6 separate regions of the Homo sapiens genome follow, and regions 1, 2, 3, 4 and 6 are each linked to region 5. The links come from fine-mapping of genetic effects on gene expression. A gene starts in region 5. Each other region holds a variant in brackets. All regions are shown on one strand. Distances are from middle to middle. Region 1 overlaps CX3CL1 (C-X3-C motif chemokine ligand 1). Region 2 has its middle 4.7 kb from the start of DOK4. Region 3 overlaps CIAPIN1 (cytokine induced apoptosis inhibitor 1). Region 4 holds the start of CCL17 (C-C motif chemokine ligand 17). Region 5 holds the start of POLR2C (RNA polymerase II subunit C). Region 6 overlaps CCDC102A (coiled-coil domain containing 102A).

Region 1 (5,081 bases), 87 kb after region 5:
GCCGAGACAGATAGATCATCTGAGGTCAGGAGTTTGAGACCAGCCTGATCAATATGGTGAAACCTTGTCTCTACTACAAATACACAAATTAGCCTGGCATGATGGTGTGCACCTTTAGTCCCAGCTACTCGGGAAGCTGAGACAGGAGAATTGCTTGAATCCGGGAGGCAGAGGTTGCAGTGAGCTGAGATCATACCACTGCACTAAAGCCTGGGTGACAGAACAAGACTCCGTCTCAAAAAAAAAAGAAAAAAAAAAAAGAGATCTCTTGCCTCAGCCTCCCAAGTAGCTGGGACTACAGGTGCCTGCTACCATGCCTGGCTAATTTTTTTAAGAGACAGGGTCTTGCTATGTTGCCCAGGCTGGTCTTGAACCCCGACCGCAAGTGATTCTCCCACTTCAACCTCCGGAATAGCTGGGATTACAGATGTAAGCCACTATGCCCAGCAATAAACTTTTTAAAAAATATATAAGTACAACTGCTTTCTAAGGAAGGTGGGGTCTGCTGAATAGATGATCCTTTGTTCTGCTGCTGAGAGCCAGAATGAGCCCGAGAGCAGTTGCTGAAAGGTACTGAGTCATCCTGCCTAGGAGGGAAGAGGCATTTGAAATTCCTGGAGCAAGAAGAGTAAGGAGGAGGGTTGGAGATGGACGGTATGAATAAGGTGGGGGCAGAGTGGGGCGGAAGGGGCAGGCAGTAGCTGAGTGTCACGTGGAACCAGAGAGAAACCCCGGGACAGGACAAATAAACCCAACTATTTGATATAAACATTTGAAGTTGTTTACATTGAATTTCCACCTTTTCTCTTCCTCTATAATCTCCAGCAAATTTTCTTCTGCTTAGCTTGAGCTCAAGGAGGATGAGTATAAAAAACAAGGAAGAGCTTGAGTTTCAGATCTGAGTCAAGGTTATATGCAGCAAAAGCAAGACCCCAGAGGGTTTTGCAAACATCTGGAGACCAGGGCAGTCAAGAGAGCAAGCTGATCTTATCTAGCCCTTCAGAGCCTGGGAAACCCCCAGGGCATCCCTGGGCTCCACCAGAACACGAACTGCTCATGCATAAATATTTACATATATGTGGCCATGCAAACATACACCACTTTCCCAAATACAGGCACATGCACGCTTGCACACACAGAGAGACTTTGTAGAGTCTGCTGCTTCCTCTCTCCATCGCTCCCCCTTAGCTTTGGCCCACCCTGCTTTGTGGGAAGGTGGTTTAGGGCCGGCAGGTCTGGGTTGAGTCATCAAGGAGAAGCACTAGTAGCTTCAGGGGGTTGGGGGCTGTGTGCAGGAGGGGCTCCCCAGGTCACAGGGCTGTCCTTTCTCTCTGAGTAACCAGGATATAAAAGTCACTGTGTGGGCTGGCCACCCTCCTTCTGCAATGGAACCTCAGACTGACTCACCTGCAGCCTCCCCAGGCCCTATTGAGTGGAGCCAGGTGGCAGTCCCCTAAAATGGCCTGCAGGTGTCTTCTTTGGGAAGCCCCAGAAAATACGGTGCCCCTGAGTGACCAGAGACAGGAGGAGGCAAGGGAGGCTGCCCAATGGATAGGAAAGAAGGTCCATTCTGTGCTCCCCAAATCCAAGATGGGAAAAGCCATTGCCCACCTCCAGGGCTTTAAAGAGCCACAGAGTCATCCTGTCTCCAAAGTCCCCACCCTCTGCCACGGTCCCTGAATGGTCCTGGCCCGGCTCAGTTCTTGGTTCTGCCAGGAAGATTGTTTAACTGACCTGGGGAGCCTGTCCCTTCTCAGAGCTGAAATTTTCCTTTCTGTAAATGGAGACAATGCCTCATCCAGCCAGTCATATATTATCTGTCATAGGAGTGTCAGGAAGGCAGGGACCTTGTCTGTCTTGGTATCATAGTTTCCCAGCATCAAGCACAAGGTGGATACTCAATCAATATTCATTGAATGAAATTAGTCTCAGTTTACTTATCTCTCTTTAATGCATCTATCTACCTATCCATCCACCCGTCCACCCACTCTTATCAATCTTCTACCCATTCCTCGCCCACCTGCCACCTCCTGCCCAACCCCTATTCATCTCCATTCATCCATCTACCCACTCCCTCTCCCCTACCTACCACCTGTCAATCTTCCGCCCCCTTTTATCTCACCTACTCATCCATCCCTCATCATCCCCTCCCCATCCCTTCTTCCATCCATCCATCTGTCCATCCATCCACCCATCCATCCATCCATCCATTCATCCATCTATCCACCCATCCATCCATCCATCCATCCATCCATCCATCCATCCATCCATCCATCCA[C/TCCAC]TTCCTGATTCAGCCAACACTGGCTGGAATTACTTTTGAGTATATACAAAAATCTCAGGCCCTCTTATCCTTAACCTTGAGCTCTTTCTCCCATAGGCACTGGTGCTGAGTTTGAAGAGAGTGCTTCCATCCCAATAAATGCCATCAGATCACTCTGTTTATTCAGTCAACCAACAAATGCTGGTTCCTCTTGCCAGGCCCTGTGCTGGGTGCTGTGAGGTACAGTGAGATGAACAAGGAATGCCTCTGGCCTCAGAAGGCTCCCAGCCTGATGGACAGGTAAATTAGGCACACAAAGTATCAGAGGTTTTATTTATTTTTTTTAATTGAACACCTACTGTGTATTGGACCCTGTGTCCAGCATGTACACATCTGCTCTCTTTAATTCCCAACATTCCTGCAAAGGGAGTATTATCCCAACTTTACAGATGCAGAAGCTGGAAATAAGAGAGGCTAAATGTGCCCAGTGCCACACAGCTGCATGGTGGCAGAGCTAGTTTTCTACTCAGCCCCTAAACACCCCACTGTTCTAGGCTACCCTAGATGCCAGGTAGAAACACAGTGTTCCAGAACATACCACAAACATATTGGGGTTTACATGAGGGAGAGACCACTTCCAACTTCAAATGGTCAGGGGAGGCTTCTTGGAGGAATTCTCCTTTAGGCTGGACCTCAAGGACTTCTAAGAGTCTTCCAGGGTCTTAGAAGGAGACTCAGGAAATGTCCTGGGTTGCTGGATGAGGTGATAAAGGGAGGGCTTGAGCCATTGCCCAGCTGTGTGTCCTGAGCAAGTCACTCGGACTCCCTGAGCCTCAGTTTCCTTACTTGTAAAATGGATGTGACAATACCTGCTTCACAGTGTGGTTGTGAGAATAAGAATTTTTTAACTTCTGGAGCATTTTTCCCTTAGGGCAAGGTTTCTCAACAGTGACACTACTGACATTTTGGACCAGACAATTCTTTGTTTTGGGGGCTGTCCCGGGTACTATAGGAGGTTTGGCAGCATCTCTGGCCTCTACACACTAGAGGCGAGTAGCTCAACTGAACCAAAAACATTGGGATATTTGTAACAAGTAAAAAATTTCTCTAGAAATTGCCAAATGGCCCATAGGGGAGCAAAATTACTCACTGAGGACCATTGCTCTAGAGATATCCACATGGCTCCCGCCCTCACCCCGCTCCAAACTGTGCAAAGCCACCTACTCAGTGGGCTTCCCTAACCCCCTATTTAAAATGTCAACACCTCTCTTCTCCCCTCTCTATTTTTCTTTTTCTTTTCTTTTCTTTCTTTTTTTTTTTTTTAAATGGACTCTCACTCTGTCACCCAGGCTGGAGTGCAGTGACACGATCTCGGCTCACTCCAACCTCTGCCTCCCAGGTTCAAGCGATTCTCTTGCCTCAGCCTCCCAAGTAGCTGGGACTACAGGCATGCACCACCACACCCAGCTAATTTTATATTTTTAGTAGAGACAGGGTTTCATGATGTTGGCCAGGCTGGTCTTGAACTCCTGACGTCAGGTGATCTGCCCGCCTTGGCCTCCCAATGTGCTGGGATTACAGGCATGAGCCCCTGCGCCCAGCCACCCCTCTCTATTTTTTTATCACAGTGCCTTTTCTCCTTCCAACAGACCACATTGTTTACTGATTTACTTTGTGTGTTATGTGTCCTCTGCAGTTGAATTACAGCACCTCGAGGGCTGAGGTCCTTGGCTGTTTTATTTATTGATGCCGCCCCAGTACCTAGAACCAGGTTTGTCACACAGTAGGTGTCCAATAACTATTTGTTGAATGAATGGACAAAATGCCTAAGGAAGCGCTTTGTGGCATAATACCTTAACCAACAGAAAAATGGAGGAATTTTTATTTAAATTAGACAGGGGCCTGGATCTGACACTCTTGAATTTATCCTCCCATGCCCTCCCCATCCACCCCCACTGCTAATGAGGCGGGTAGGCTATAGGAGCTTAAAACAGATTCGTTTTTTTTTCTCTTTCTTGCCAGGACTTGAGTGGGAGTGAATGCGTCAGCTCTTGGAGTGGGGGGGCAATGCTCTGCACTGACTCGTAGCTGCAGGTTTGTTATATAAAGTACAGAAGCCTCCTGCCTGACACAGCCCCACAAACCCACATTTGGGGACTGACGCAGCTGCCCCACACTAGTCAGGGCAGCAGCTACGAACCCCCCAGCCTCCTCTCGGGGTCTCTCTGGCTTCCAAACCACCCCCTTGTCCTACAGGGGCTCCCGAGGGCCTCTCAGAGCCATACATGTCAGCGTGGGAGAGGACTTCCAAGGTGAGCCTGGTCAAATGCCTAGTTTTACAGGAGGAGAAAGTGAGGCTGAGAAAGGTTCCAATAATGCCCAGGATCTTCCAGTAAAGCCAATGACCAAGATGAGGGCAGAAGCCTGGTTCTAAAGCCTCAGGCTGCTAGTCTGAGCACCCAGGGTCCCCCAGTGTCCCCTTTCCATCCTAGCCTAGGACCCTTCCCTCTCTCAGCTTAGTAAAAGTAATCCTCCTCCTCCGCCCTCTTCAAAACACCTCCATAGGCATTGGAACCTCGTCACCCTCCCCCAATCCACCGGAGAGGTAATAGCTATATTTAAAGATGCAGCAACTGGGACCAGAGGAGGCAAGACCCTGCTCACGGTCACATAACAGGACTGTGGCAAAGCAGCCGCCATCTGACTCCCTGCTTTCCAGATCTCACTGTCCGCAGACACCTCAGGCTTCAGGGCCCCAGCCCAGACAGCAGGAAGCCAGCAGGAATTTGCCTCCACCACTCTCACGTGCCCACCCACCCACACA
Region 2 (5,088 bases), 28 kb before region 5:
AACCCTGTCTCTACTAAAATTATAAAAATTAGCCGGGCTTGGTGGCACACGCCTGTAATTTCAGCTACCCAGAGGCCGAGGTGGGAGAATCCCTTGAACCCGGAGGCAGAGTTTGCAATGAGCCGAGATCACGCCACTGCACTCCAGCCTGGGCAACAGAGCGAGACTCCATCTAAAAAGAAAAGAAAAGAGGCCGGGCGCGGTGGCTCACGCCTGTAATCCCAGCACTTTGGGAGGCCGAGGCGGGTGGATCATGAGGTCAGGAGATCGAGACCATCTTGTCTAACACGGTGAAACCCCGTCTCTACTGAAAATACAAAAAATAAAATAAAATAAAATAAAAAATTAGCCGGGCGTGATGGCGGGTGCCTGTAGTCCCAGCTACTCAGGAGGCTGAGGCGAGAGATTGGCGTGAACCTGGGAGGCGGAGCTTGCAGTGAGCCGAGATCGCGCCACTGCACTCCAGCCTGAGAAACGGAGCGAGACTCTGTCTCAAAAAAAATAAATTAGCAAAAAATAAAAATAAAAAGAAGAAAGAAAAGAAAAGAAAGAAATAATGCTTTTCCACCTATCTTGGTATCCCTTAACACAAAATTAACCATCACAGTAGACTCTAGAGCAAAGAAAACTACCAGAGACAGAGAGGGACGGTATATAATAGTAAAAGTGTCAATCTATCAAGAAGATATAGAAATCCTTAATACAGGGCCGGGCATGGTGGCTCACGCCTGTAATCCCAGCACTTTGGCAGGGCGAGGCAGGCAGATCACAAGATCAGGATTTCGAGACTGGCCTGGCCAATATGGTGAAACCCCATCTCTACAAAAAATACAAAAATTAGCCAGGTGTGGTGGCACACCCCTGTAGTCCCCGCTACTCAGGAGGTTGAGGCAGAAGAATCACTTCAACCCGGGAAGCGGAGATTGCAGTGAGCCGAGATCGCACCACTGCACTCCAACCTAGGCGACAGAGCAAGATTCCATATCAAAAAAAAAAAAAAAAAAAAAAAGAAGAAGAAAAGAAAAGAAATCCTTAATACACATGCACCAAGCAAGAGAACTACAAAATATGCAAAACAAAAACTGATAGAAGTGAAAGGAGAAATGGACAAATCCACACTTATAGTTGGAGATAGCAACACCTCTTTCCAGCTATTGATAGTACAACTAGATATAAAATCAGAAAAGATGCAGAACTTAACCACAGCATCAGCCAACAGGATCTAACTGATATTTTTAGAACACTCTACCTCAGAACAGCAGAACATACCGTGTTTTCTTTTTTTTCTTTTTTGAGACAGAGTCTTGCTCTGTCGCCCATGCTGGAGTGCAGTGGCACAATCTTGGCTCACTGCAACCTCCGCCTCCTGGGTCCAAGCAAGCGCATCTGGCTAATTTTTGTATTTTTAGTAGAGATGGGGTTTCACCGTACTGTCCAGGCTGGTCTCAAACTCCTGGCCTCAAGTGATCCACCCGCCTCAGCCTCCCAAAGTGCTGGGATTACAGGCGTGAGCCACCACACCGGGCCCACACCTTGTTTTCAAGTGCTCATGAACATATACCAAGATAGACCATGTCCTGGCCATAAAACAAACTTCAACAAGTTTAAAAGAATTGAAATCTTACAGAGTGTTTTTTTCTGGCTACAATGGAATCAAACTAGAAATCAGTAACACAAAGAGAACAGGAAATTATCCAAATACTTAGAAATTAAACAGTACGCTTCTGAATGATCCATGGATAAAGAGAACGTTTCAAGGGAATTTTTTAAAAGATACATTGAACTGAATGACAGCGAAAGTAAAACATATCAAAATTTGTGGAATACACCTAAAGCAGCACTAATATGGACATTTATTTCACCTTAGAAAAGAGGAAAAGTCTTATATCTGTCATCTGAACTCTATATCATCTAAACTTGATAGACTGACACCTTAAAGACCTAGAAAAAAACAGCAAAATAAATTCAAAACCAGCAGAAGTAAGGGAATAATAAAGATAAGAGCAGAAATCAATGAAATCTAAAATGAGAGAGAGAGAAAGAGAGAGAGAGGGAGAGAGAGAGAATTAGTGGAACAAAGATTTGGTTTTTTTGAACAGATCAATAAAATTGACAAACCTCCAGCAAGACTGACAGAGTAAAAATGTCAGAGAAGACACAAATACCTACATCAGAAGTGAAATAAGGAATATTGCTATAAAACCTGAAGACATCAATAATAATAATAATAAGGTAATGTTTATTATTATTGTAAAGTTGACAACTTAGATGAAATAACTACTTCCCCCAAAGACACAAACTGTTACAATTCATTTAACATGAAATAGTTCATTTGAGTAGTCTTGTAACAATTAAGGAAATTAGATTTTAAATTTTAAAACTCCCAAAAAAGAAATATCTTTGGGAAGCCAAGGCAGCAGGTTCACTCGAGCCTAGGAGTTTGAGATCAGCCTGGGCAACATCACGAGAGCCCCCATCTCATTTTATTTAAAAAAATTATTATTGTTATAATTTTAAAACTCCAGACTCAGATGTTTTTGTTGAAGAATTATACCAAACATTTAAAAAAATAATACTAATTCTACAAAATTGTTTTCAGAAAATAGGAGT[G/T]AATTCTGTTCAATTCATTCTATAAAATCAGTACCCTGATACTAAAACCAGATAAAGGTAGCACAAAAAGAAAGACAAGAAAACTGGCCAGGTGCAGCGCAGTGGCTCACACCTGTAATCCCAGCATTTTGGGAGGCCGAGGTGGGTGGATCACCTGAGGTCAGGAGTTCAAGACCAGCCTGGCTAACATGGTGAAACCCTGTCTCTACTAAAAATACAAAAATTAGCCGGGTGTGGTGGCAGGCACCTGTAATCCCAGCTACTTAGGAGGCTGAGGCAGGAGAATCGCTCGAACCTGGGAGGCGGAGGTTGCAGTGAGCAGAGATGGTGCCATTGCACTCCAGCCTGGGCAAGAGAGCAAGACTCTGTCTCAAGGAAAAAAACTAACAAACAAACAAACAAAAAAACAGGCTAAAGATGAAAAATCATATATTAGTATAGAAAAGCATTTGACTAAATTAAACGTTCATTAATGGTAAAAAGCTCTCAAAAAATAAGAGAGGAGGACTTCCACAATTTGATAAAGAGCATCTACAAAAAACCTACAGCTAACGTTGGTCCTTAATGATGAAAAATTGAATGCTCTCCCCGAAGATCAGCAACAGGGTAAGGATGTCAGCTCATACTACAACATAGTGCTGAACATTTTAGCCAATGTGATAAACCACTAACAAATAGGTAGAAAAAGAGGAAAAAAACCTTTTCTACATGCAGATGACATGATTATCTATGTAGAAAATCTCAAAGAATCTACCAAAAAAAAAAAGACAAAAACCTCCTAGAACTAATATGTTCAGCAAGGTTGCAAAATATAATTATACAAAAATTATTTCCATATACCAGCAATGAACTCATTCATGGGCAGCAAAATTAAAAATGCAATACCATTTAAAATCACCAAAAATAAGTAAATAAAATAATTAGGTGGAAAGCTAACAAAATGTGTATAGGACCTGTATGCTGAAAACTCCATAATGCTGATGAAAGACATTAGAAATAAATAAATAAATGGAGAGACATACTGTGTTCTTGAATTGGAAGACTCAGCATAGTAAAAATGTCAATGCTCCCCAATTGATATACAGGTTTAATGTAATTTCTATCAGAATCCCAGCAAGATATTCTGTAGATATAGATAACATTATTCTAAAATTTACATAGAAAGATAGAGAATATTACCAGGACAGCTGAAACAATTTTGAAAAAGAGTAAGTTGGGGCTGGGCGCATTGGCTCATGCCTGTAATCCCAACACTTGGGAGGCCAAGCTGGTAGGATCACTTAAGGCCAGGAGATTGAGACCAACCTGGGCAACATAGTAAGAACTCCATCTCTACACAATAATTTAAAAAATTACTTGGGCATGGTGGTCTCAGCTACTCAGGAGGTTGAGGGTGGAAGATTCCTTGAGCCCAGGCACTCAAGGCTGCAGTGAGCTATGATCATGCCACTGCACACCAGCTTGGGGGACAGAGTGAAACCTTGTGGCAAACAAACAAACCAATAACTTGGGAGGAATTAATAACAATCTACCTCAGAGGTCCCCAATCCCTGGGCCACAGACCGGTACTGGTTGTGGTCTGTTAGGAACCTGGCTGCACAGCAGGAGGTGAGCAGCTATGAATGAAGCTTCATCTGTATTTACAGCCGCTCCTCATTGTTCACATTACCACCTGAGCTCCGCCTCCTGTCAGACCAGCAGCAGCATTAGATTCTCATAGGAACAAAACCCTATTGTGAACTGTGCATGCGAGGGATCTAGGTCATAGGCTCTTTATGAGAATCTAATGCCTGATGATCTGTCACTGTCTCCCATCACCCCCAGATGGGACTGTCTAATTGCAGGAAAACAAGCTCAGGGCTCCCGCTGATTCTACATTATGGTGAGTTGTGTAATTATTTAATTATATATTACAATGTAATCATAATAGAAATAAAGTGCACAATAAAGGTATTGTGCTTGAATCATGCTGAAAACACTCCCACAACATCCATGGAAAAATTATCTTCTATGAAACTGTCTGTGGTGCCAAAAAGTTGGGGACCACTGGTCTACCTGATTTTAAGACTTTTTTTTTTGAGACAGAGTTCCACTCTTTTTGCCCAGGCTGGAGTGCAATGGCGCGATCTTGGCTCACTGCAACCTCTGCCTCCCAGGTTCAAGCGATTCTCCTGCCTCAGCCTCCCGAGCACACGCCACCACACCCAGCTAATTTTGTATTTTTAGTAGAGATGGGGTTTCACCATGTTGGCCAGGCTGGTCTTGAACTCCTGACCTCCAGTAATCCATCCGCCTTGGCCTCCCAAAGTACTGGCATTATAGGCATGAGCCACTGCTCCTGGCCTTAAGACTTACTATATAGGCATAGTAATCAAGACTGTTATTAACAGAGAGATAGACATGCAGATCAGTGAAATAGAACAGAGAATCCAGAAATATGTCCAACTGATTTTTTACGAAGTTGCAAAAGCAATTCAA
Region 3 (5,088 bases), 28 kb after region 5:
ACAATTGTCCTCATCTTACAATGGAGTTACATCCTGATAAATACTATTAAGATGAAAATGCATGTAATTCATCTAACCTACTAAACACAATTGCTTAGGTTAGCCTAGCCTACCTTAAACACGCTTAGGACACTTGCGTTAGCCTACAGTTGGGCAGAATCATCTAACACAAAGCCTGTTTATAATAAAGTGCTTAGTATCTCATGTAATTTACTGAAAACTGAAGTATACAGTTTCTACTGAATGAGTATTACTTTCATACTATCATAAAAGTTGAAAAATTATAGGTAGAACCATCATTAAGTCAAGGACCATCTGTACATTAAACAGAATAGGTTATTATTTTTTTTTTGTTTTTTCTTTGAGATCAAGTCTCACTCTGTTGTGCAGGCAAGAGTGCAGTGGTGCAATCTCGGCTCACTGCAACCTCCGCCTCCCAGGTTCAAGCGATTCTCGTGCCTTAGCTTCCCAAGTAGGTGGGATTACAGGCGTGTGCCACCACGCCTGGCTATTTTTTTTGTGTGTATTTTTAGTAGAGACGGGATTTTGCTATGTTGGCCCCAGATTGGTCTTGAACTCCTGGCCCCAAGTGATCTGTCCACCTCAGCCTCCCAAAGTGCTGGGATTACAGACATGAGCCACCACGCCCACCTGGTTATTATTGTTTGAATGCCTGCGAACCCATATAGGATTGAGCCTTTATTATTTTTCCTACTTTGAACTATAAAGCTATTAATTGGGATTTTCCTTTTGGCAGATAACAATAGCAAAGTGAAGACAGCATCTAAGCTGTGTTCAGCCCTGACTCTTTCTGGTCTTGTGGAAGTGAAAGAGGTACGTTTGTAGACAACTTTCTTTGCTGCCCTGCAGGTGAGGTAATCAGTATTGCTTAGAACTAGGAAACAAGAAATGCTGTGCATGTAAGATACATGATGCTTCAAAGGACAAAACTTGGGAGAATCGGCCGGGTGTGGTGGCTCACGTCTGTAATCCCAGCACTTTGGGAGGCCGAGGTGGGTGGATCACGAGCTCAGGAGATCGAGACCATCCTGGCTAACACAGTGAAACCCCGTCTCTACTAAAAATACAAAAAAATTAGTCGGGCCTGGTGGCAGACGCCTGTAGTCCCAGCCACTCAGGAGGCTGAGGCAGGAGAATGGCGTCAACCTGAGAGGCGGAGCTTGCAGTGAGCCGAGATCACGCCACTGCCCTCCAGCCTGGGCGACAGAGCGAGACTCTGTCTCAAAAAAAACAAAACAAAACAAAAAAAAACTTTTGAGAATAACCAACTTCAAAGAGACTCAGCTTGGCCCATGTGGGCTGGGGCTTGTTCTTGTCTCCTTGGTACTAGTTTAGTGGTGGTGACAGCTGAGGGGCATGAGCAGCAGCTCTGCTGCTTCCAACACCCACCTCTCAGTAGACCCGAATCCTAGGCCTGGGTGAACACTGCCATCTAGTTCAGCCTCACATTTTTGGTGGGAGGCTGGAATAGGTTAGAGGGCAAAGTTCCTTTTCTGACAATTCAGTGGAAATGTTTAAATTAAGCAGAAGTATTTATATTTCTACACTCTTTGATCTTAAAATTTTCTTGGATGTGGGAGAGGTAAATGTTACAGCATGATAGCTGTTGTGCCTGTTATTTCTTACATAATGTAGGGCCTTAAATTCTTTGTTTTTTAATTTTTTTTCTTGTTTTTGGAGACAGTCTCGCTCTGTTGCCCAGGCTGGAGTGCAGTGACACGATCTCTGCTTACTGCATCATCCGCCTCCTGGGTTCAAGCAATTCTCCTGCCTGAGCCTCCCGAGTAGCTGGGATTACAGGCGTGCGCCACCACACCTGGCTAATTTTTTGTATTTTTAGTACAGATGGGGTTTCGCTATGTTGGCCAGGCCGTTCTCTAACTCCTGACCTCAGGTGATCTACCCACCTTGGCCTTCCAAAGTGCTGGTATTACAGGCGTGAGCCAGGCCTTAGATTCTTTATGCCAGGCCTTAGATTCTTTATGCCAACCCTTTCTTATTTTTCCTTTTAGCTTAAGGTTTTCTGTGCTTGATTTTAAAATAAGGAATGTGTATTAGGCCATTCTTCTGTTCCTATAAAGGAATACCTAAGACTGAATAATTTATAAAGACAAGAGGTTTAATTGGCTCACTGTTCTGCAGACTGTACAGGAAGCACGGGCCTGCAACTGCTTGGCTTCTAGGGAGGCCTCAATGAACTTTTACTCGTGGCAGAAGGTGAAGCAGGAGCAGGCACATCACATGGCAAAAGCAGGATCAAGAAAGAGAGGAAGAGTCGGGGTGGGGAAGGTGCCATACTTTACAACCACCACATCTCATGAGAATTCAGATGGTGCTAAACCATTCATGAGAAATCTGCCCCCATGATCCAGTCACCTCTCACCAGGCCCCACCTCCAACATTGGGGATTACAGTTCAACATGAGATTTAGAGGG[G/T]ACACATATCCAAACTATATCAGACTCCTCATAAAAATTCACTTTACACCAAAGCATACAGAATATAAAGTGACATCCCACTTCTTGCTCACACTTCCCTCCCCAGAGGAAGCCACCAATGCCTTTTTGTATGTCCGTTCAGACCTTTTCCTATGTATTTACAAGCATCTACATGCACATACTTTTTTAAAAATGTAAATAAGATCATAAGTATACATTGTTCAATCACCTTTTTTCCCACCCTTAGATATCATAGACACTTACCTACTTCAGTGTATTTCCCTTCATTCATATTAATGATGTAATAGTATTCCATACAATAGATGGACTGTGATTTATGTAACCAGTCTATAATTATTGGACATAGAGGTGGCACCCTGACCCTTTTTTTCTACCTTTACTCTCTGCTACTTTATCCCAAGGAACATAGAAAGGATTTTCCTCCCCCTTTTTCTTTTGGGATATAAATTTCTGCTGTCTTCATTGTGGGCATTCTTTCCTGTTACACAGTAGGACCACATCTGGTTCATTTTCATAATTGTATTACATCCCAAATAACTAGTATATGCCTCATCCCTAATGTTTTTTAAGTACTTTTACATTTTCCAAGGGGTAGGCTCCAAGTAAACATGCAGACAAAGGTTATACTCTAGGGTTCTGATCAGTGAGAAACTGAATGTGAGGCATAAAGTGTTATCTGTTACCATCCACTGTTACATCCTTAATGCACAGAAATGAGTCTTTGACTCCTGTGTAGGTAGACATAGTAAACCATTTTACAGAGGAGGGTGAACTAATCCTTTTGATGTCTTGAATTCTAGCTGCAGCGGGAGCCCCTAACCCCTGAGGAAGTACAGTCTGTTCGAGAACACCTTGGTCATGAAAGTGACAACCTGCTGTTTGTTCAGATCACAGGCAAAAAACCAAACTTTGAAGTGGGTTCTTCTAGGCAGCTTAAGCTTTCCATCACCAAGAAGTCTTCTCCTTCAGGTAAGGCTGGCCTAGGGACATTCTTCTGTTTGAATGGGCTTAGAGGGACATGTTAGAAATTGAGCCAGCAATAAATGAGATGGTGATATTTTTAGAGGATTAGTCCTTTGATTTCTGCCATTTCCACAAAGAAGAATACTTAATGTACTATTATCATGGGCATATTAGGATCCAAAACTGAAATAATACATAGGTATTATCTAGTTCAGCTCCTTCTTCTGCACCAGAAGATACCGAGGCCTCCTAATTTTACAGGACTGAGTCACACAGTTTAATTAATGAGGTCCTTCCAGGTCCCAGAATTAACGTTTCTCCTCAGAAGACCTCACAGTGTAGTGGTAATGGTGTATGAGAGTGCCCTGTTCCTGTTCTCATGTGCTTTTTTCCCCATGCCAGGAAAATCAGCTGTTCTTACTTTGAGGATGCTAAGACACTTATAAAACTATATTTCTTCTGACTAGAAAATTGTGTACAAGCACACGCGTGCACGCACGCGCACGCACACACACACACACACACAGCTCCATCCTCATCCTTCCTATCCCTATTTTTAAATGCCTGAATTGACCCAGCTGTGAGGTATGCAGACATTAACAGATATTTACTGGTACATTCCCACTTGTACGGTTTTGACTGTCTAACCTAAATCTTCAAGAAATCCTTTGGAATCTAACCTTTCGATTCATGGTTCCAGAATGGGTAGGAATAGCTTAGAACAGTTGGCCTTGTGGAAGGTATGAGCATCCAGCTGTGACAATGATCACTAGAGGGTACTCTTACCCCAAGGGCCTGCGAGGATTTGCCCACACTGCATCCGAGCCTCAGCTCTCTGCCTCTTCCTTGCATTCTCCTGACTAGACAGAGAACCAGGAAGTGTGAGGTTTGTCTGCCACTGATGGTGTTACCTTGCCACCAGCAGCTCTAGAGCCTATTTTCTTGTATGTAGCAGGTTTACATGAGGCTAAAGCTCTGCTATTTTTGAAGGTTTTGACACATTTCTCATTTAATCCTCAAAACACCTGCAGTAACATAGGAAGTACAATTTAACTTCATGTTATAGAATGGAAACTAAGGTATCGAGGAGGAAGCAATATGGAATGGAGGTTAAAAGCATCAGACAGGCTTTGCAGCCTGTGGAACCAGCCTAAGTGTCTAAACCTGTTTCCTCAGCGGTAAAAGTAGGATGACAGATAGTTACCTCATAAGGTTGTCAGCAGAATTAAGTTAGATAATGTATATAAGTGCTTAATATGGTGCCTGGTGCAAAGCAAGAGCTTAGCAAATGGTGACTTCTGTAACTATCAGCAAGTGGTTGGCCCAAGGTCAGACCTCTCAGAGGGGTAGAGCTGGACTGTGAACCCACATCTTCTGCCTCCCAGGCCAGTGTGTTCTCTTCTACACAGCAGGAAGCATTTATGTATGTTTGTAATTAATAGTTTCTGACTGTGTTTATGGAGTTTTTTCTTTTATTGCTTGGACTCAGTGAAACCTGCTGTGGACCCTGCTGCTGCCAAGCTGTGGACCCTCTCAGCCAACGATATGGAGGACGACAGCATGGTGAGCTGGCAGCATTGTCACTTGATTGCTTTCTTTCAGGCCCCAGTTTGGGTGTGAACAGCTATAGTGACCTTTCTGGACTTGT
Region 4 (5,086 bases), 57 kb after region 5:
CCAACTTATCCCTCCAGGACTTAGCACCTTAGTGGGTGCTCAATAAAATATGTTTATTAGGCCAGTTTGGTGGCTCACACCTGTAATTCCAATACTTTCGGAGGCAGAGGCAGGTGGATCACTTGAGCCCAGGAGTTCAAGACAAGCCTGGGCAACATGGTGAAACCCTGTCTCTACAAAAAATGCAAAAAAATGACCAGGCGCAGTGGCTCACATCTGTAATCCCAGCACTTTGGGAGGCTGAGGCAGGCGGATCACAAGGTCAGGAGATCGAGACCATCCTGGCCAACATGGTGAAACCCTGTCTCTACTAAAAATACAAAAAAAAAAAATTAGCTGGGTGTGGTGGCGTGTGCCTGTAATCCCAGCTGCTCGGGAGGCTGAGGCAGGAGAATCGCTTGAACCCGGGAGGTGGAGATTGCAGTGAGCCGAGATCACACCACTGCACTCCCTCCTGGGCAATATAGTGAGACTCCATCTCGAAAAAAAAAAATAGCCAGGTGTTACAGTGTGCACCTGTCCCAGCTACTCTGGAGGCCGAGTAGGGAGGATCACCTACATCAGGAAAGTTGAGGCTGCAGTGAGCCATGATTGTACCACTGCACTCCAGCCTGGGCGACAGAGTGAGACCCTGTCTCAAAAAATATATATATGTTTACTGAATGTATAAATAGGTGAGTGGTTGTATGGATGGGTGAATGAATGAATGGGTGAATGGATATGGATGGGTAAATGAGTGAATGGATGGATGGAGGATGGATGATGGATGGACGTGTGGGTGAGTGATGAATGGATGAGTGGCTGGAAGGTGGATGAAAGAATGGACGGATGGATGGATGGTAGATAAATGGATGGGTGGATGTGTGTATGGATGATGGATAGATGGATTGGTGGATGGATGGTGAAAGGATAAATAGATAGATGGATGGGTAGATGAATGGATGGATAGATGGATGGGTAGATGAATGGATAAATGGATGGGTAGATGGATGGATGGTAGATGGATGTGTGGATGGATGGCAAAAGAATAAATAGATGGATGGATGGGTAGATGGATGGATGGAGGGATGGATGGAAGAATGGATGGATAGATGGATGGATGGTAGATGGATGTGTGGACGGATGGTGAGAGAATAAATAGATAGATGGATGGGTAGATGAATGGATGAACGGATGGGTAGATGGATGTGTAGATGGATGGTAAAAGAATAAATGGATGGATGGGTAGATGAATGAATGAATGGATGGACAGACGGATGGATGAATGGATGGATACATGAATGGATGAATGAATGGGTGGATGGATGGATGGATGGATGATGGATGGATGGAAGGATGGATGAATGGGTTGATGGATGATGGATGGATGCATGAAACTGGATGGGTGAGCAGATGGATGGACTGATGGATGGGTGGGTGTATGTGTAGATGTATGGCTAGATAGATGGATGTGTGGTTGGATGGATGAATAGAAGTATGGGTGCATGGCTTGATAGATGATGAATGGATATATACATGCATGAATGCATGGATAGATGGATGGTCACTTAGAGATTCTGAACTACAACATGGGCCCAACTCACATTCTATCCCAGGGCCTCCTTCATCCAAATAGTTTTTAAACCAGTGTGTACCATCATTTCATGAGACACACCCGAATCCTTCTGTCATGGATAAAGCAGAGGAATCTAACCAAGGACACCCTGACTCCTCCCCCATCTAGTTTACAACTTCCTTGTGGTTGTGGCCATTTTTTGCCAAACCTATATTGCTTCAACTGTGGCTTGGATCTCAACCTTTATTCATCCCAGAGGGGCCTCCTTCCCTCAGTTGCACTGCCATCTTCTAGCTCTTTACTGTCTCCAATCCCATGACCCCCTTTCCCTCTGCTGACAACATGATCCTGTCTCTCCACTTCCATAAAGACCTCCCCTTGACTTCAACACCCTCGCATGCTGCCCTCCCATTTCTCCTTTCATTCATGACCAAACTGCTCCGATGTGTGGTCTGTACTTCCCTCTACCATTTCCTCTCTGCCCACTTGTGATTTAATTAATCCTCAGCAATGTGGCTTCCAGCTCTGATGCTCTAGGAAAGGTGCTCTCACTGAGCCTCTTGATCCCCTCCAGCCACTCCCTGAACCTCCCACTGCCTTACATTGGGCAGTGATTACCAGCAGAGGCTCTGGAATCATTACCTACAGCCCTGAGTCCCAGTCACTCTTCTACTTGTTCCTGGTTGTGTGACTAACAGCGATTTTATGAACTTCAGTTTTCTCATCTGTGAAATGGGTGTGATGATAAGACACTCCCTCATGGTATGACCTGGAAAACTAACTGAGATGAAGTCTATAAAGTTCCTAGTCTCCAGCTGGCTCAGGGAATCGCCTTGTCATCCCTGGGAACCTACCATCCTTCTTGATGCTCCTCCCACTGGGATTTGGGACATGGTTCTTCCCTGAGCTCCCTGTGAGCTCCTCTTCTCAGAAATGTCCCTGAGCTCTCACTATAGGCTGGGGTGGGTGTTGGGGCAGGGGAATCTCAGCAGTTAAGTCTATTAGTTTACTTTGTCCTCACAACAGCTTCAGGGAGTAAGAACTATTAGTTTCTACAGATGAGAAAATTAGGAACTGACCAGAGTAGTTTAAGCAACTGGTCCACTGTAATCCCAGCACTTTGGGAGGCTGAGGTGGGAAGATCGCTTGAGCCCAGGAGTCTGAGACCAGCCT[G/A]GGCAACATAGTGAGACTCTGTCTCTACAAAAAAAATAAAATGAAAATTAGCCAATCATGGTGGTGCACGACTGAGCCATGACTGTGGCACTGCGCTCCAGCCTGGGCAAAAGAGCAAGATTCCATTTCAACAACAACAAAATAAATCTGCTTCATGGGCACAGAGCTAGCTGGTGGCAGGAGCAAGCCTGGGCTTCTGTCCTAGACTTTGTTTTTGCCTCAAGCAACCTTCCCTTCCTCCCTGACATCATCTACCCCAGATCTTTTACCTCTGGATAAAGACTTCTTTTTTTTTTTTGAGACGGAGTCTTGCTCTTTCGCCCAGGCTGGACTGCAGCAGCGCTATCTCGGCTTACTGCAAGCTCCACCTCCCGGGTTCACGCCATTCTCCTGCCTCAGCCTCCCAAGTAGCTGGGACTACAGGCGCCCGCCACCATGCCCGGCTAATTTTTTTTTTTTTTTGTATTTTTAGTAGAGACGGGGTTTCACCGTGTTAGCCAGGATGGTCTCGATCTCCTGATCTCGTGATCCACCTGCCTCGGCCTCCCAAAGTGCTGGGATTACAGGCGTGAGCCACCGCACCTGGCCTGATAAATACTTCTTAAATCTCTGTCTCCAGCCCTGACCAGTAACTAATCAGACACACCCACCTGGACACTCCTCCTTCCGGCCCATCTTTCTGTGGCACCCCTCAGCTCTCTCTGCCTTGCAGCCTGGCCAGCTCTGTGCAGTTCTGTCCCCCACACTAACCTGTGAGCTGCTGGGAAGCAGAAGTCTGTCCTGCTATGGTTCACTCAGCCCCAGGTACCAGAAGGGCAAAACCGAGTTCCCTCTCACACCAGCCTCCTTTTTTTCTGTTCAAGCCAGCATTGTTTCCCATCTCCCCATCTGCCCCCAAGTCTGAAACTTTGCCCTTGACTCATTCCTCGCCTCCATCCCCCACATTACATCAGGCAGAGACTCTGCCCAGCGCTGTCTTCAGTGGGAGCTTGGCTTCCTTGCTTCCTTCTCATCTCCACTGGCTCAGCCCTCATCCTTCACACCCAGAGAGTCTCAAAAACTTCTGGGCCTATTTCTTCCTCTCTGGTCTCTCCTGACACCTCCCTCATCAGCTGCATGCCCACATGTGGTGGATCTTTCACAAGGGCTGCCCTGACCATGTAATGCCCCCTTCCTCCAAAACCGTCAATGGCTCCCTGCTTCCTTCCCCATCCAGTCAAAACTTTTCAGGCCAATCTTGAAGCTGTACCTTCCATCTAGCCCCTCCTTCCTATTCAGTCTCATCTCCCTGCTCCCCAACATTGAGCTTTCTTGAGGGCCAGTGCGTCCCCTCACTTTGTGACTTGGTTTGCTGCTTCCAAACTCCTGTCCCCTTCTTGTATGGATTATCTTCCCTTGATCCAAAGTCCATCCACCGCTCATCTAACACATGCCCTGAAAGATCCAGCGAGGGGGTCACCTCACAGTGGAGGGGTTAGGAGCAAAGACTCTAGGTCAGGTCACCTGGTTTTGAATTCAGCTCTCCCATCAGCAGGCGGTGACACTGTGAGCTCAAAGTCACTTCTCTCTGAGCCTCAGTTTCTACAGCTGCAAAATGAAAATAATAACAATAATTACATTAGAAGGCTTTGGTTTGCATCAACTGCCTTACTGCTTATATCTGGCAAATAGTACACGTTTCTGACTTTAAATATCATCTATATGCCAACCACTCCCAAGTTTCTCTCGCAAACTCCAGCCTCCTTCTACGTCCAGCTGCCTACTCGCCATACCAAATAGGCAGCTCCAACCCCCCAAGTCTGAAGCTGAATTTCTGATTCCCACCCACCCCTACACCTGCTCTCTCCTCCTTCTCTGCCAGCCCCTTCCTTCCGGTTACTAGGGCCAGAAACCTGGGCGCTATCCCTGACGCCTCTTCCTCTCGCCCCCAACTTCCCATCTGTTGGGTGAGCTCATGTCTCTGCTTTCCAAATACACCCAGAAACCAGCATCAATCCCTGGCTTCCTACAACTGCCTTCTGGGTGCTCTCCCTGTCTCCATCCTTGCCCCCTACAGTGTATTCTCAGCACAGCAGCAGAGGGACCATGAATCTCCCGTGTTCAGAACGTCCCCGTGGCTCTCCACCTCACGCAGAGGACAAGTCCAAGACCCTCCAGCAGCCACGAGGCCCCGCGAGTTCTGTGCCCTGCTCTCTGCCCACCTGTATCTCCTGGTTCCCTGGTTCACTCTGCCCCAGCCACCCTGGCCTCCTCCCTATGCCTCAAACCAACCAGACAGACATGCTCCTTCCTGAGGAGGTTTGCACGGACTGTTCTTTCAGCCTGGAATGTTGTCCCCAGATACCTGCAGGACTCACT
Region 5 (5,000 bases):
AGTATTTGCATGAGAAGCACTTAAATCTGCTACCTGTGCCACCACTAAATCCAAGAACATGAACTATTTGAGCACTTCAAAGTCAGGGAAACCCTCACAGAAGCAACACAGACTTATGGGGCCATACCTCATTTTAGGATATAATGACTGGACTGCCCAACTTAGCACTTTTTAAACACTCAATCAACAAATGTTTACTGAATTCTTTTAATGCGCAAAGTATACTAAATATAGAACCCAATCCCTAGCAGCAATGAGCTCGTAGGAGGGTAAAGACTGTATTATCGATCACACATGCTTGACTTAAACACACATTTATTCATTCATAAACATTTGCATGGAACCAACTAAATCCAGGAATCAAATGGCACTGGAGCCCAACTGCCAAACGAGGGACACAGACACTAGGAACAGCGGTCGGAAGAGGACCTCCCCCTGCCAGGCCTCCACCTGCTCTGTCCTGCTATGCTTCCCATTGCTTCCCCAGTCCAAGCCAACTGAGAGAACCCTGACCCAAGCTTTTCTGCCTCTTTAATCCCCCAGCCCTTCCCTCCAGCACACCCTTCCCCTCCTTGCTGTACAGGTTAAGATCCTCTGTGCCTCCTGAAAACTAAGCCTTGCCTGCTCTCTATGCTACAGATGTGACATTCCCTCCCTTTCAACTCCTCTCTCACAAAACTCTGTTCAGACTTCCCTCAAGACACTTGTCATAGTGTGCCTTGTGTCATATTTGTGTATGTTATGTCTATACCTCAAGCTTCAGAAATTCCTTCACGCAGGTCCTGGGATGTCTTTGTATTCCTAGCATGGGTGCTCAATATTATTTGTAGAACTGAATTTGTTGGGAAAGAGGCATTTAGACTCAGAATGGCAGGGCTGCATCATGAAGTACAACTCCCTCACCTGACTCCTGATGAAACTGAGGTCCAGAGGCATGAAGTGCTTAGGCAGGGGGAGGTCCAGCACTCCAAGCTGAATTTAAGAAGTGACTGGGGGGCGGGGGGGTGGGGTGGTGGTGGTAGTGGATAAACTACAATGTTCTCTTGCCTAATCATTTGGCCTGCTTATTTCCTTAAAAGTCTGAATATTTGATGCCACAGCTATGACTTATATTTATTTTGCCTAATCCAAACTCTCTGAGCTGACTCTCAGAAATGCTTGAAGTATTTCATACAAGTATAATCAATGCATTAAGCACCTGGAGCAGAGTGGCTGGAACCAGACCAGAAATTGATCTTCCCTCCTCTAAGAGCCAAGTGCACCACAGCTATGCTTCTCCTGAACTACTGATCAAAATCTACCTTGCTTTAGTGTTGTCTGTGGATTCATCTCTCCCCTACAACCTCACTGTGGACTCCATGAGGGCAAAAACCCTGTTCTCTACAGCTTTGCATTCCCAGAGCTTACCACCATGCCTGCCACTTTCATGCTCCATAAATGCTGTTGAAGGAATAGATTAATAAAAAAGCCATCTACCAGCACTGAGCACTCACTAAACACAAAGCACTTATATGGATTACCTCACTTAATCCTTAACATTACCCTGATAAGGATCATTAGTGGCCGAATGTTACAGATGAGGAAACTGCAGCACACAGAAGTTTAATAACTTGCCCAAGTTTCACAAAAGCAGTAAGTGATGCAGCCATAAGAACGAACGAAATCATGTCCTCTGCAGCAACATGGACGTGGCTGGAAGCCACTATCTTCTTTTTTATTTTCTTTTGTTTGAGAAGGAGTCTCACTCTATTGCCCAGGCCAGAGTGCAGTGGCATGATCTCGGCTCACTGCAACCTCCACCTTCTGGGTTCAATCAATTCTGCCTCAGCCTCCCCAGTAGCTGGGATTACAGGTGGGAGCCACCACACCTGGCTAATTTTTGCATTTTTAGTAGAGGCGGGCTTTCCCCATGTTGGCCAGGCTGGTCTCAAACTCCTGGCCTCAGGTGTTCCTCAGTCTTGGCCTCCCAAAGTGCTGGAATTACAGGCGCGAGCGCGGCCTGGAAGCCATTATCCTAAGAGAATTAACACAGGAACAGAAAACCAAACACCGCATGGGAGCTAAAACTGGGTACGCACGGACATAAAGATGACAATAAACACACTGGTGACTACTAGAGCTGGAAGGGAGGCAGTGGGGCTAGGGGTGAAAAACTACCTATTGCGTACTATGCTCACTACCTGGGTGAAAGGATCATTTATACCCCAAATCTCAGCATCACGCACTATACCCAGGCAACAAACCTGCACCAATGTACCCCTTGACTCCAAAATAAAAGTTGAAAACATTTTAAAAACTTTTGTAACAATAGTAGTGAAAACAGTATTTGAACCCAAGTCTGCACACTGCTAAACCCATGCTTCTCAGCAATGCATACCCAGGACAAGGGTGGACCTAAGTGGCCCGTGGGCGCCAGGGAGGCGGCCACTGAGCCAAGGGCACAGGGTATGGTCAAGTCTCCAGCAATGCACTTTTCTCAGCACTACCACCCTCAGCCCGAACCAAGGACTGGAAGGAGCCCCAAAGAGTGTGTGGGTGGAGAGCGGGGCAGGAACCCGTGGGCGCGGGAACGAGGAAGGGGAGTCGCTTACCTATTATGGGAACCTCAGCGATGAAGACCCTCCGAATCGAATTGGCCACCCTGAAAGATCAAAAGCCAAGGGGCGTGAAGGCGCTGCAGCCTCGACAGGCTGGGCCCGCGCCGCAGGCTCCCAAAGCTAAAGCCCTGGTGCAGGGGGGCAGCTCTGGAAGGACATCGCCCCCACCCCACCCCACTACACCCCCGCCCCCTGCCCCGGGGCCCCGGCTTGGGCCTCCCGGCGCCCCAGAGCCGCCAGCCTCTTCCCTCGGTAGCCTTACGCCAGGTCGGTGTTCTCGATGATGAACTTGACATTCTCGTCAGTGAGCTCCGTGATCCGCACGGTAGGCTGGTTGGCGTACGGCATCTCGCCCAGGGGCCACCAGCCTCCGCGTCTGCTCCGCGGTGACTGCGCGGCGCCACCGCCAACACCGGAAGTCAGTCAGCGAGGCCTCCGCGGCTTCCGCAAAGACGACTCACAGCGCCGCCTGCTGCTCGGAGGCCAGAACTGCCGAGCGTCTTCTGCGGCCTCCTGCTTTAAAATGTACCAGATTCAGCTATCTCGGAGGGTAGTTTGGCAAAACACGCATACGTCCTTCACTTAACAGTAACACTTCTAAGAATTCATACTGCAGAAACACTTGCAGTTGTAAACAAAGATACGAGTGCAGGGACGTTCGTGGTAGTACTGTTTGTACTGTCCATTGATAAGAGACCTGGTGGAGTATACACACATGGAATACTATGAAGCACTTAAAAAGAACTTGTACATCTATAGAAAAACAAAAGTATATTTTAATATGAATGTATATTTTAGCAAAGTATACCTGAATTATAAGTAAATACCCTTTCCCTTGCAGTCTCAAGTATGGACCATGCACTTCTGAAAACTTCAGGAAAAGATACAATGTTCTTTAACCTAATGCTTCCTCTACAGTCTGTGTAGCTGTGGTGGGTGAGTGGGAACTCTTTGTCTCTGCATCCCCAGTGCCTGGCAGTGGGCACCATGTGGGGTGCATGCTCAACAAAGAACTACTGAAGTCCCCTAAACAGACTGGAGAGAGGTTTAAATGGGCCTCAAAAAAAGTGGCTGCTGCTCCAACAGAGAAAAGCTCTAAAATAGAACGTGGCAGGAAATACATTTAAGAGTTGGGAGAAGAGTAACCAGATAAAGAGGAGTTTGCCTTTGCAAAGAGTGACACCTCTTCCTGAAACAGAGGGTGGGCACTGATGGAACCCTGCTCCATAACCTGTGTCATCTTGGTAAATTAAGAATTATGGTTGTCTGCTGAGTGTAAGATGGATGCTATGAAGGAAAAAGGAGAATGCAATGAAAACTGGAACAGCTACTGCGAAAACTTCACAGGATGTCAAGAGATACAAGGAATTGAGAGGTGCAAAAAAGATCCAGTGGAAGACCCACAAGAGATCTGAAATTCAATTAGTTGCTGACTTTCCCCCATTAATATTCAGCTGACAGGCAGAAGAGAGCAAAGCAGAAAACAGAGCTAACCAGACGTGCAAAGGGAACCCAGCCAGTGTAGAGGCTGAGAAAATTACTGGGGCTAAAGAATGTACCACTAAAATCGTCAGACAAGAGCAGCCAAGGGAGCTGATGGTCTGTGGGAAGGCTTCTGTTACCCGTATTTTACTGATGGGAAGACTTGAGCCCAGAGACGCAGAGGTACTATAATTACCACTATGTATTAGGCAGTGGCAGCGCCAGAACACAGGTCTCCTGGCTGCCATAACTTAACCTGTCTCCCTCTGGGGTCCTGGATACCTATCATGATTGATAAGGAAACTAACTACACAATGGGAAACTACTTCAAACATATTTATTATTTTTACAGACTCAAAATACACTAATAATCCTGCAATGCATGCTGGTGTCATGTGACACCAGGCCTGGAATCACACCTCTGTCCAGCAGGCACTTGTCTCAGGTGAGGCAGTTTTCTGAGGGGGCTCCCAGGAACAGCATCTCAGGACACCTGAGAGGGAGGGGGCTGCAAGGAACACCTCTGTGTGCACACGCCTGTGCTGTGCTGGAGATGAGCTGTCACCTTGAGGTGGCGTCAGACCTTGACTCTGGCTTGGGAGCCCCAAGGTTAAGGGAAGGTTAAGACATGATCAAGGTGCCCATGAGATTGTGACAGGGACATGCTGGGTTTCTGTGGCTTGACTGCTTGGATGAACATCTCATTTTTCAATCACACAGTTGCAGTGCAGAAAGGCATCAGGAGGCTTGGTCTGGTATTAGGAACTGAAGAAGCAGCCCAATCCCTGACCAGAACGGTAGCATCAAATGCCTTGTGGTTTCCAGGTGGCTGTGGTAGTGACTCAGGAGTCCTTTAGTGTGTTCTCGTGAACACCAGGTTATGTGGATGGCACCTTATACTTTTCAAAGCTCTTTCAATCT
Region 6 (5,088 bases), 61 kb before region 5:
TGGAACAGGGGCTGTGGTCCTTGTGGGTTTGTGTCAGAGACAGGCCTTGGAGATGGGCGGGGCGGAGAAGAAGGGCAGGATGGCAAGAAGGAAAGGGGCTCGGCCCTGGGTTCCTAATTTCTCAACTGCTTCCTGTCTGGGAGCTGGCTCTCCTCACAGGCACTGCTTCCCTGTGTCACCAGTCTCCCCATGCCTTACTATTTGCCCCTGAAAAAACAGGATCTTAGAGCTAGAATTCCTTTGGAAGGAATCTAGGCTTAAGCCATTATAGGAATTCCTGCTTCAACATTTGTTCCCATCGGTGCCCCGCCGTAGGTTTGCATACTTCCAGTGACAGGGAGCTCACCACCTCTCCTGGGGAATCTTCTAGGATACAGGGAACCATGGTGGCTGACACTCTGCAGCTCCAGGAGGTGAAAGGGGAGGCCCAGAGCAGGGTGTGTCTTCCTTCTCCAGAGATGGAGAGGCAGGCAGCAGAAGAGGAAACTGAGGCCCAGAGACACTGTGTGACTTGCCCAAGGTTACCCATCAAGCTGATCTCAGACCCAGGGCCTGGCTTGGCGGCCACTGGTCCAGCCTCCACCTTGGTCCCCGCAGGAACTGGAGCTGGTGGAGAGCCTGCTGAAGAGCATGCCAGAGGAGTCTGAGGACTGCTGGGAGGCGCGCAGCCTGGGGGCTGGGGGCCCGCGGGGCAGCTCAGGCCGCCAGGAGCGCAGCCGGCTACCCTGGGAGGACACAGCTGCCACGGAGGAGGAGGCCTCCAAGTTGACCGCCCTGCGGCTACGGCTGGATGAGTCCCAGAAGGTGCTGCTCAAGGAGCGAGAGTGAGTCGTGGGAGGCGGGAGGGGGCAGGGCCAGGGCCAGGCCGTGCTACAACGCCCTCAGAATCACAGAACATTAGACTCACGAAGATGACAGGTAGTGTTTAGACTGTATCTTGGAACTGTAGAGCAGTGGTGTTCCACCCAAGAACTCAGTGCAAGTTTTTATTTATTCATTCAAATAATACGTTACCAGGCACCTGTTCTGGGCCAGGCACTGTGCTCTGCCCTGAGGATACAGCCGTAAATAAGACAGAAGCCCCTGCCTTCCTGAAACGTACTTTCTAGTTGGGGGAGAGGGCTGTGGGCAGGGTAAAAGCAGGGAATGGAGACAGGGAAGTTGGAAGGTTGCAGCTGGGACCTTGGTTTTGGACGTGTGAGTTTGAGATGGCAGGGAGGCAGCTGGGGATGTGAATGAGTCTGGAGTTCATGAGACAGGCCTGGGCTGGAGGTAAAAATGCAAGAGTCACCAGTGAAGAGATGATATTGAAAGCCATGAGCTGGGCCAGGCGCAGTGGCTCACGCCTGTAATCCCAGCACTTTGGGAGGCCGAGGTGGGCAGATCACTTGAGGTCAGGAGTTGGAGACCTGCCTGACCAACATGGTGAATTGAAACCCCATCTCTACCAAAAATGCAAAAATTAGCTAGGCGTGGTGGCAGACACCTGCAATCCCAGCTACTCAGGAGGCTGAGGCAGGAAAATTGCTTGAAGCCGGGAGGTGGAGGTTGCAGTGAGCCGGAATTGTGCCACTGCACTCCATCCTGGGCGACAGAGCAAGACTCTGTCTCAATAAATAAATAAATAAATAAATAAATAAATAAATAAAACGATGAGCGTGGACAAGGGCCAAGGAATGAGTGTGGATAGGGAACTGGTCAGAGGATCCAGCCCTGAAGTGCCAAGTTTAGAGGTCAGTTAGAGGAAAGGGAAACAGCAGAGGAGACAAGAGAAGGGAGCCGGGCTGGGAAGGGGAACCACAAGAAACCGTTTCCCGGAGGACAGAGTGATCAGTAAGAACAGGGCTGAGCCCTGGACCATTGGATTTAGAATGTGGAGGTCACCAGTGACCTTGATCAGAGCAGTTTAGAGGGCACGAGCTTGATGATAATGAATATTCTGCAGTTTTTCTGTCCAGAAATTAAATACGACAATAGCATAACCTATCTACACACTCCTTTTTAAAAAATCAATATAATGGCCAGGTGCAGTGACTCATGTCTGTAATCATAGCAC[T/C]TTGGGATTCCGAGGCAAGAGGATTGCTTGTGGCCAACCTGGGCCATACAGCAAGACCCTGTCTCTCTCTCTATATATATATATATTTTTTTTAGACAGAGCCTCACTCTGTCAGCCAGGCTGGAGTACAGTAGCACAGTCTCGACTCACTGTAACCTCTGCCTCCCATGTTCAAGTGTTTCTCCTGCCTCAGCCTCCTGAGTAGCTGGGATTACAGGCATGTGCCACCATGCCTCTGGCGCATGTTCTTTGTAGTTCTCCTGGAACTGCATTCCCTATCCAAGTGCAAGTGCCCAGCTCACATTGTGGGGAGGTGGTCGGGGTTCCAGAGCACTGAGCATCCCCGGACAAGTACCTCTCTCCTGCTGCACCTCAGGCTCATCTGAAAATGGCTCCAGGAGGTGGCGGCCCCAGCACTGGCCACTCCACTCCTTGGCCCACCTTGTTCTTCTCGAAGGGCTGTCAAAGACCACCCTGCTCCTGTCTGTTTTGTAGACTATGTTCCCTGCAAGGCTTGGTCTGAACACATGTTTCTGCAGATAGAAACACTGGAAAACACTGTCCAGTGACCCGAAGAGAGGGTTCTCTCTTGCCATCGTCACTGTGTGGGATCCCTACATCCTCCCATAACCCCCACCCTGCCTTGATCTTGAATAAGGCACTGTAGGTTACAAGCATGATGCCTGGCCCTGGCAGAGTAGGTGCTCACCAATGGCTGAGCTCAGCATCACCTTCCAGCACGCTGCCCTTCATGACCCCACACCACACTGGCCTCTCTCTCTGAGAGTGGAACACTCCACGCCTCCAACATGGGGTTCCCAGAGGGGACAACCCAGAGGGTGGCTAAAAAATTAGCCACCAGACCCGGCTAATTTTTGTATTTTTCATAGAGACGGAGTTTTACCATGTTGGCCAGGCTGGTCTCGAACTCCTGACCTCAGGTAATCCACCAACCTCAGCTTCCCATAGTGCTGGGATTACAGGCATGAGCCATTGTGCCTGGCCTACAAAAAAAAAAAAATTAGCTGGGAACGGGGCTGTGCCACTGTAGTCCCAGCTACTTGGAAGGCTGAGGCGGGAGGATCGCTTGAGCCCAGGAGGTCGAGGCTGAGGGAGCTGTGATTGTATGAATGCACCAGTACCCTCCAGCCTAGGTGACAGAGAGAGACGCTGTCTCAAAAAAAAAAAAAAATCACTATAATGCCTTTGTGAAGATGTAGGCAGAGGTCAGGGTGATGCTTTTGCGGACATTGTTGCATCTTTGGCCAAGGAATACCAAAGATGGCCAGCAAACTGCCAGAAGCTGGGAGAGAGGCATGGAACGGATTCTTTCTCGCAGCCCTCAGAGAACCAGTCCTGCCAACAGCTTGATCTTGGACTTCTAGCCTCTAGAAATATGAGAGAATAAATTTAGACTGTTTAAGCCAAACAAGCAAAAAAATCAACCTAGTGCACTAACTGAAATATAAAGTAGAAGTGAAAGTAACTTTTTTTTTTTTTGGAGACAGAGTCTCGCTCTGTTGCCCAGGCTGGGGTACAGCGGCTCTATCTCAGCTCACTACAATCTCTTGTCTCCCTGGTTCAAGCAATTCTCATGTGTCAGCCTCCCGAGTAGCTAGGACTACAGGCACACACCACCACGCCCAGCTAATTCTTCGTATTTTAGTAGAGACAGGTTTTCACCATGTTGCCCAGGCTGCTCTCGAACTCCTGAGCTCAGGGAGCCCACCTGCCTTGGCCTCCCAAAGCGCTAGGATTACAGGTGTAAGCCACTGCGCCCAGCCTGAAAGTAACTTAAAATACACGTGTTGTGATATGGGAGTGCTTGGGCATAGCTCCTCTAGAAGAAATGGTGAAGTGGTCAGAGTGGGTGTCTTTAAATGGGATGATAGTGACGATAGTTATAACAGCAAAGACATAGCATGTGCTCCGAGTCAGGTGTTGTGTTGAAGGCTTACATGTATCTGCACATTTAAGTCACCTCGCAGGACAGCTACAAAGGCGGCTCATGCAGGTGTGCAGACTTAGCAACTCAAAGACACAAGTGGTGTCACTGCGATGCGCTTTCTTGAGAGATGAACAGCCTTTGGTAAAGTTCTGAACAAAGCAAAGTGCAGCCGGGCACCGTGGCTCATGCCTATAATCCCAGTACTTTGGGAGCTCGAGGTGGCAGGATCGCTTGAGTCCAGGAGTTCCAGGTTGCAGTGAGCTGTGAACAGACAGGAACAGGGTAGTCTTTAAGAGATGAGCCTGGGGTACAGCAGGAGGGAGGTACTTGCCCAGAGATGCCCAGTGCTCTGGAGCCCTGACCACCTCCCCACAATATGAGCTGGGCACTTGCACTTGGGTAGGGAGTGCAGTTCCAGGGAGTGAGCTGTGATCTGCACTCCAGCCTGAGCAACAGAGCCAGATCCTCTCTCTAAAAACAAAGAAAAGTGCAGTCTTCCTTCAGTTTATACAGTGATTCCATTCCTAGAAAATTCAGTGTATGTTAGTATAAAAATTACTTTCTGTTTCAATGTAAATCAGAATGAGGCTGTAGGCTCAGATCATCTCTACCCCGAGCAATGTCCAGTGGGCTGTGCATGCATTCAGTAGGATGCAGGATGCATCCTGATGGGCAGGACGCCCAGGGCATTGCAGGGAGTCAGGCACCCTGGCCCCCGTCCACTAAATGACCCCTAATCATTGTGATAGCCAAAAATGTTGCCATGGGTTTTCAACATGCCTCCTACAGGGTGACGTTGTCCCCTCTGGGAACCCCATGTTGGAGGCATGGAGTGTTCCACTTTCAGAGAGAGAGGCCAGTGTGGTGTGGGGTCATGAAGGGCAGCGTGCTGGAAGGTGATGCTGAGCTCAGCCATTGGTGAGCACCTACTCTGCCAGGGCCAGGCATCATGCTTGTTACCTACAGTGCCTTATTCAAGATCAAGGCAGGGTGGGGGTTATGGGAGGATGTAGGGATCCCACACAGTGTCGATGGCAAGAGAGAACCCTCTCTTCGGGTCACTGGACAGTGTTTTCCAGTGTTT

The links.
Region 1: its variant is fine-mapped to the expression of POLR2C in transverse colon (CEDAR, PIP 0.95).
Region 2: its variant is fine-mapped to the expression of POLR2C in whole blood (INTERVAL, PIP above 0.99).
Region 3: its variant is fine-mapped to the expression of POLR2C in whole blood (INTERVAL, PIP 0.97).
Region 4: its variant is fine-mapped to the expression of POLR2C in whole blood (INTERVAL, PIP 0.98).
Region 6: its variant is fine-mapped to the expression of POLR2C in whole blood (TOPMed, PIP above 0.99).

What each region holds. Positions count from the first base shown.
Region 1 is chr16:57,373,638-57,378,718 of GRCh38, reverse strand. All of the region lies in intron 1 of CX3CL1 (C-X3-C motif chemokine ligand 1), which reads right to left. Among named protein-coding and RNA genes, the nearest start is that of CX3CL1, 3.7 kb to the right of the region's middle. RefSeq lists an enhancer at 1-128. The variant C/TCCAC (reference allele first, on the strand shown) is at 2,279.
Region 2 is chr16:57,488,644-57,493,731 of GRCh38, reverse strand. No RefSeq gene overlaps it. Among named protein-coding and RNA genes, the nearest start is that of DOK4, 4.7 kb to the right of the region's middle. The variant G/T (reference allele first, on the strand shown) is at 2,611.
Region 3 is chr16:57,432,402-57,437,489 of GRCh38, reverse strand. It overlaps CIAPIN1 (cytokine induced apoptosis inhibitor 1), which reads left to right. Exons shown (of 9, transcript NM_020313.4): 4 at 758-834; 5 at 3,278-3,446; 6 at 4,930-5,003. Among named protein-coding and RNA genes, the nearest start is that of CIAPIN1, 12 kb to the left of the region's middle. The variant G/T (reference allele first, on the strand shown) is at 2,457.
Region 4 is chr16:57,403,982-57,409,067 of GRCh38, reverse strand. CCL17 (C-C motif chemokine ligand 17) reads right to left here and starts at 4,301. Exons shown (of 4, transcript NM_002987.3): 1 at 4,232-4,301. The variant G/A (reference allele first, on the strand shown) is at 2,729.
Region 5 is chr16:57,460,670-57,465,669 of GRCh38, reverse strand. POLR2C (RNA polymerase II subunit C) reads right to left here and starts at 2,991. Exons shown (of 9, transcript NM_032940.3): 1 at 2,860-2,991; 2 at 2,592-2,641. The coding sequence starts at 2,945. COQ9 (coenzyme Q9) reads right to left here. Exons shown (of 9, transcript NM_020312.4): 9 at 4,400-5,000. RefSeq lists an enhancer at 2,839-3,133.
Region 6 is chr16:57,521,637-57,526,724 of GRCh38, reverse strand. It overlaps CCDC102A (coiled-coil domain containing 102A), which reads left to right. Exons shown (of 9, transcript NM_033212.4): 3 at 598-824. Among named protein-coding and RNA genes, the nearest start is that of CCDC102A, 12 kb to the left of the region's middle. The variant T/C (reference allele first, on the strand shown) is at 2,057.